Linked DNA regions of Homo sapiens. The protein of the gene in region 2 purifies or fractionates together with the protein of the main gene of each other region. This does not show direct contact. Each region holds a gene or a part of one and is shown on either strand. Other genes may lie near its edges.

The links. The genes of interacting proteins can lie anywhere in the genome.
Region 1: the proteins of ATXN2L (region 2) and EDC3 purify together in Homo sapiens (affinity purification with mass spectrometry, with the first as the bait; one large-scale study listed by BioGRID). This does not show direct contact.

Annotation. Positions count from the first base shown.
Region 1 is NC_000015.10:74,668,525-74,672,024, forward strand, and holds part of EDC3 (enhancer of mRNA-decapping protein 3), read right to left. Parts: intron 3,251-3,500; coding exon 2,931-3,250; intron 1-2,930. UniProt on the Homo sapiens protein: Binds single-stranded RNA. Involved in the process of mRNA degradation and in the positive regulation of mRNA decapping. May play a role in spermiogenesis and oogenesis.
Region 2 is NC_000016.10:28,829,499-28,832,998, forward strand, and holds part of ATXN2L (ataxin-2-like protein), read left to right. Parts: intron 1-359; coding exon 360-560; intron 561-1,116; coding exon 1,117-1,292; intron 1,293-1,463; coding exon 1,464-1,574; intron 1,575-2,688; coding exon of another isoform or gene 2,689-2,706; coding exon 2,707-2,901; intron 2,902-2,997; coding exon 2,998-3,069; intron 3,070-3,318; coding exon 3,319-3,389; intron 3,390-3,500. UniProt on the Homo sapiens protein: Involved in the regulation of stress granule and P-body formation.

The DNA of each region.
Region 1 (3,500 bases), on a different chromosome or scaffold from region 2:
GACAGGGCAACATAGTGAGACCTTGTCTCTACTAAAAGTAAAAAGACTAGCCAGGTATGGTGGCACACACCTGTAGTCCCAGCTACTCAGGAGGCTGAGGTGGGAGGATCATTTGAGCCTGGGAGTTCAAGGCTGTAGTGAGCTGTGATCGTATCACTGCATTCCAACCTGAGTGACAAAGCAAGACCCTGTCTCAAAAATGAATGAAAGAAAGAAAGAAAGAAAGAAAGAAAGAAAGAAAAAGGTTAAAGTCTAAATGGAAAGAATCATTTTCTATCCAAGCATTCTACAGTTTTTCTAAGGATACAGAAGTCACAACTGAATTTCAGTCTCATATTTGCAAACATCGTCATTTCAGATAGTTGTTTCATATGCACCAAAGGAAACTACCTTGAAACTGTATATTACATACATTAAAACATTTTTTTAGGCCAGGTGCAGTGGCTCACGTCTGTAATCCCAGCACTTGGGGAGGCCGAGGCAGGCAGATCAACTGAGGTCATGAGTTCGAAATCAGCTTGGGCAACATGGCATTATCCCATCTCTACTAAAAATACAAAAATTAGCCGGGCGCAGTGGCTTATGCCTGTAATCTCAGCACTTTGGGAGGCCGAGAGTTTGAGACCAGCCTGACCAACATGGAGCCCCGTTTCTACTAAAAATACAAAATTAGCCAGACGTGGTGGCACATGCCTGTAATCCCAGCTACTCGGGAGGCTGAGGCAGGAGAATCTTTTGAACCCAGGAGGCGGAAGTTGCGGTGAGCCAAGATCACGCCATTGCACTCCAGCCTGGGCAATAAGAGCGAAACTCTGTCTCAAAAAAAAAAAAAAAAAAATTAGCCGGGCATGGCAGCAAGTGCCTGTAGTACCAGCTTCTAGGGAGGCTGAGGCAGGAGAATCACCTGAACATGGGAGGTGGAGGTTGCAGTGAGCCAAGATCACACCACTGCACTCCAGCCCGGGCAACAGAGCAAGGCTCCATCTCAAAAAAAAAAAAAAATTAGTTTTAATTTAGTTGTTTATTCACTTGAATCAGGCATCTCCAAAACTTAAAATGTTGGCCCCTGACACAGGTGTCACACCACAAGCTACTAATAGAATTCACCCAGCACACTAAAACCTTACTACATTGCCACCAGGACCACAGTGTGAGGAGCAACAATGGTAGCAAGAAGTATCCGGAATTTTATGTAATAAACTTTCTGAGTGGGGTCTAGAGAGACCTAGCTCACTCTAAATTGTGCCTTTTAGAAGGTATTGCCATAGCATGACTCTAGCTTATAATTTTAAATGAGTTAATGAATACTCATTTAAAATTTCTTTTGGTTGTTCATTTTGAGACAGTCTCACACTGTCACCCAGGCTGAAGTGCAGTGGCATGATCTTGGCTAATCACAACCTCCGCCTCCCTGGCTCAAGCCATCCTTCCACCTCAGCCTCCTGAGTAGCTGGGACCACAGGTGCACGCTGCCACGCCCAGCTAATTTTTTTTTTTTTTTTTTTTTTTTTTTTGTAGGGATGGGGTTTTGCCATGTTGCTCAGGCTGGTCTCGAACTCCTGGGCTCAAGCGATCCACCTGCCCCAGCCTCCTGAAGTAGTGAGATTACAGGTGTGAGCCACTTGCACCCAGCCTCTCACTTAAAATTTCTAATACATTCTGCTACCATCTGTGAGTACAAAACCATCTAAGTAAAATAAGAATAGTTTGGCATTTGGAAGTAATTTTTTAAAACAACATTCATATTAATTTAAGGAGCATAACAGATTCCAGTGAATGTTATGATTCGCTATTGTAACATTATTCTAGTAAATATGTTGGAGAAGAACAGTTCTAGTGAATTAACTATGGTTTTGGAAGGCAGCTATGCTCACCATCATACCACCAACACAACTATGGTTTTATTTTATATTATTTATTTTATTTTTGAGACAGAGTCTCGCTCTATCGCCCAGGCTGGAGTGGCACAATATCAGCTCACTGCAACCTCTGCCTCCTGGGTTCAAGGGATTCTCCTGCCTCAGCCTCCAAAGTAGCTGGGATTACAGGCATGCACCTCCACGTCCGGATAATTTTTGTATTTTTAGCAGAGACGAGGTTTCAACATGTTGGCCAGGCTGGCCTCAAACGCCTGACCTCAGGTGATCTGCCCGCCTCAGCCTCCCAAAGTGCTAGGATTACAGGTGTGAGCCACCGTGCCTGGTCACAACTATGGTTTTATAATCAGCAAATGGCATTTAATAATGTGTTAGTATCAAACAAAACTGGGCAGCAACAGAGACCAATGCACATTCTTCTTGGTGTGTCAGTAGGAACAAATACAGCAAATTAAAAATTGTCTGCTAGAAAATCAAAGATCACAGAGATGTTTGGATCAGTCCCCTCCTCTCTTCTGAGGATGAGACTCAAATCACAGGAAGAAAAGTTACTCAAGAATCCTCTGGAACAGCCCAAGTGCAGGTTCAACTCAAACACTACTACCAACATCAGTAACAGGATTTAAGTTTTTTTTTTTTTCTTTTTCAGAAACAGAATCTCACTATTTTGCCCAGACTAGCCTTGAACTCCTGGGCTCAAACAATCCTCCTGCCTCAACCTCTCAAGTAGCTGGGACTATAGATGCGTGCCACCACGCCCAGTAGTTCCTGGATTTAAAACATCACTGTTAGTAAACTCTGGGCAGACTTTTCCTGAAGGAAGTGGTAAGAGAGGGCAGGAAGCTCACAGGCATCCCTAACAGCTTATTTCCTTTCCCTTAACATCTTGAGGAATGAGGCCTGGAGGAAGAGAACCATGTTGTATTTCTGTGACGCTCAGCCAGCATCCATTTTATTGGAATAACAAAGGATTTGTTTAAAGAGCAGCAGTGCTTATGGCTTATAGCCCTGAAACACCAGATTGAGAAGAAATATCAACTTGACCCTACTTACAGGAGTTGTGCCGACGACGGAAACTTTTGGACTGACTCAAGGATTCCATGTGCCTGTCGACATAGCTCTTTGAGCACTGTTGCTGCTGCGGGGAAACGGCAACATCCTGGCTCTTCACATCTGTCCTCTTAGGGATATTCTGAGGGGCACTGCTGGAAGAGGCTGGCTTCTTGACAAACTTGCCTGTGCCATTCTGATTGATGCCCACTTGGCAGCCAGCACCAGAGGGGCCTAATTCTGTTTGATGAAGGTCTCCAAAATGTTGGTTGTCTCCAGGTCCTGGTATCTCCAGAATTTTTAACTCCGTAATGTCACCTGCCCTGAAATACACAAAAAAGCCAAGTCTCAAAATTATAATAGTGGTAAGAATGATGAAACTGAGATCATTAGCAAACAGCTACCCCTTTGCAGGACTGCATTTTATTGAGTTATCAGAGGCTAGGAAAGGGGGCTGTGTGCTTAAGGACAGGGGTCAGCCACCAACTATCCAACTGACACAATGCTAGCCTTTAAAAAGAGGCTATTGGCCGGGCACGGTGGCTCACGCCTGTAATCCCAGCACTTTGGGAG
Region 2 (3,500 bases):
ATCTTGGTGCTCTCCAGGTGATGTGTTGGTGATATGGGGTCACTAAGTGAAGACAGGTTTCCAGGTAGAACATAGTTTTTGCTCATTTTTCTCTGGGTGTCCAGGGTCGCCATCCCTACTCCTACTCTGCCTTGTGGAATTCTTCCCTCAAAGGTTTTAAGCGTCTTAAGTGCTTCTCACATTCCCAGATAAGCCTTGGTGCTCTACCTGGGATGCAGTCGGTGCCCGTTACCCAGATGTTGAAGGGATTAAATACTTCCATGCCTGAACTGGTGATTGGACTTGTTGAAATGTTTTTCCTTTTTTCCTCTTTTGTCCCCTGGCACTGGGATGGTGGTGGTCTGTGGGTGCTGTCTCAGGGTGCCCTTAGAAAAGGACAACTCAGAAGAGTTTCGTCAGCGAGAGCTGCGTGCGGCCCAGTTGGCTCGAGAGATTGAATCAAGCCCCCAGTACCGCCTACGGATCGCCATGGAGAACGACGATGGGCGCACTGAAGAGGAGAAGCACAGTGCAGTCCAGCGGCAGGGCTCAGGGCGGGAGAGCCCCAGCTTGGCATCCAGGTGACTGTTGCAAACAGCCAGGACTACTTGGGGCTTCTGGGAATATCCTGGGGCCTGGGCCCAGAGTTGATGAGTGCTGTGGTTTAAGCCTTGTGACCATGTAAAATGTCATACACAGGTTTAGGAGGTTGAGGTAAAGCGAGATTATGTAATTTGCCTAAAGTAACAAAGCTGGAGCTTGTAGATCTAAAAAAAAAAAATTCAAAATTTATGTGCTATTTCTTTTTATAAAAGTGAAATATAACTACATTATTTGTGTCTTTTAAAAACTATCCCTGGAACTACGGTGTGATCCTACTTTTGTCATAGGTCAGGAGTTGTAGAATTGTGGAGCACTGGCCAGGTTGGTTGGCTCAGAGTTGATGTCACATGAGGTCATAAGTCCGTAGCCACAGAACGTTAAACTAGGGCAGATCTTCAAGTGGGATGGTGCTGGAGCCAGGCAGTGTGTGTATGTTTGGGGGCAGAAGGGGGAGACTTTAGAAGAAGAAATGGCTTCATCTTTCCAAAACGTGGGTTTTGTGGCTACCTGGCCTTATTTGAACTCTTTCCTCAGGGAGGGGAAGTATATCCCTCTGCCTCAACGAGTCCGGGAAGGTCCCCGGGGAGGAGTTCGATGCAGCAGCTCTCGGGGCGGTCGGCCTGGCCTTAGCTCTTTGCCACCTCGTGGCCCTCACCATCTGGACAACAGCAGCCCTGGCCCAGGTTCTGAGGCCCGTGGTATCAATGGAGGTGAGTTATGAGGTGACTTTGAGGAAGAGGGCAGGGAAGGGGATGCCAAGGAGGTGGGAGGGTAATTGGAGGGGTTTGGGTGTGTTGGAATGACGCTGCATCGGTGGGAATGTAATAGGTCGTCTGCCTCCTGACATTTTCTTCTCAAAAAAAAAAAAAAAAACCAAACAGGCCCTTCCCGCATGTCCCCAAAGGCACAACGGCCTCTGAGAGGTGCCAAGACTCTGTCTTCGCCCAGTAATAGGCCTTCTGGAGAAACTTCTGTTCCACCTCCTCCTGCAGGTAAAGCTTTAGTAGTGTTGGATGAAGAAATGGATGGAAATTTGTAAAGAGATGTAAATATGTCCATTTGTTACAGTGCTGGAATGGGAGATAATTTTAAGATAGATGTTTTGGGCATTTGGGATTTAGTCATATTGGGAAATAGTTCTTCGATTTCCCTAGTGCAGAAATCTCAACCTAGCAATCCATGGGTTGTGTCTGCTTGGCAGACATCTTTTGTTTAGATTTGAATCAGTTGCTAAGTTTTGTTTTGTTTTGTTTTTTTCTTTTTTTGAAACGGAGTCTTGCACTGTTGCCTGGGCCAGAGTACGGTGGCGCCATCTCAGCTCACTGCAGCCTCCACCCCTCAGATTCAAGCCATTCTCCTGTCTCAGCCTCCCAAGTAGCTGGGATTACAGGCACCCACCACCACGGCTGGCTAATTTTTTTGTATTTTTAGTAGAAGCGGGGTTTTATTATGTTGGCCAGGCTGATCTCGAACTCCTGACCTTGTGATCCTCCCACCTTGGTCTCCCAAAGTGCTGGGATTACAGGCGTGAGCCACCACACCCTGCCAGTTGCTAACTTTTTAAAACAGGCCGAGGTAGGCAGATTGCTTGAGCCCAGGAGTTTAAGACCAGCCTGGGCAACACGGCAAAACCCTTCTGCAAAAAATAAAAAGATTAGCTAGGCTTGATGGCGTGCACCTGTACTCCCAGCTACTTGCGAGGCTGAGGTGGGGGGAATCGCTTGAGCCCAGGAGGCTGAGGTTGCAGTGAGATGGCATCACACCATTGCACTCCAGTCTGGGGAACAGAGCGATACCCTGTCTCTAAATAAATAAATCAATAGAAGCCATAGAAAATTTTTAGTTTCTTTTGAATTACAGGAAATTCTGTCAACTGAGCTTGCCTTGCTGCGTAGCTTGAGTTGACTGGAACAGAATCCCTGCCACTCCTTTAAGCATTCCAGTTGTCGATGATGCCCATGAGGCCATTTACCTGCTTGTGTTACCTGCCTTGAGCTTCTAGACATTTAAGTTGGTGACTCTGGTTGTATAGTGTGTAAACTTTCTTGCTGTTTTGAGTAAGGCCCTTGTACTCACTGCTGTTGACCAGCAGTAACCATCCTACAGCTCCCCCTTTTCTTCCAGTGGGCCGGATGTATCCCCCGCGTTCTCCCAAGTCTGCTGCCCCTGCCCCAATCTCAGCTTCCTGTCCAGAGCCTCCCATCGGCTCGGCAGTGCCAACCTCTTCAGCCTCCATCCCTGTGACCTCATCAGTCTCAGATCCTGGAGTGGGCTCCATTTCTCCAGCTTCTCCAAAGATCTCCCTGGCCCCCACAGATGGTAAGAGCTAGGTGTTTGAGTGCTGTGAATGCATATTTAGTGTGATTTGTGGTTCTGGACAGAAGGACCTTTAGGCATTTCTCTTTACTTGAACAGTAAAAGAACTCTCTACCAAGGAACCTGGGAGAACTCTGGAGCCCCAGGAGCTGGCTCGGATAGCTGGGAAAGGTGAGGGTGGTTTTTTTTCTGCTGAGGATTAATGCTCCTTTGTCTGGGGGAGAGTATTTCAGTTAGGAAGTTTGTTGGAATTCAGAGGCAAACAATGTCTATCAGTCCTTGGATTATAATTTCACTTCTGTGATCCTCAAGAGTTTCTCTTTTTTCTTTGCTTTCTTGTCCTCTGTTCTTTTGGCACTGTGTAGCCACCTTAGAGAAAGAATGTTTTGTATTTTCTTCTTTTTGACTGTTTTCTCATAGTCCCTGGTCTTCAGAATGAACAGAAACGATTCCAACTGGAAGAACTGAGAAAGTTTGGGGCCCAGTTTAAGGTGAGAGAAGAGTGAGCTGGGATATTAGCAGGGTAAAGGGGTTGGGAGTGGTTCGTAGATGAGGCAAAGGACTAGATAGGAGTCAAAGAGATGAGATCAAAAAAGGATGAA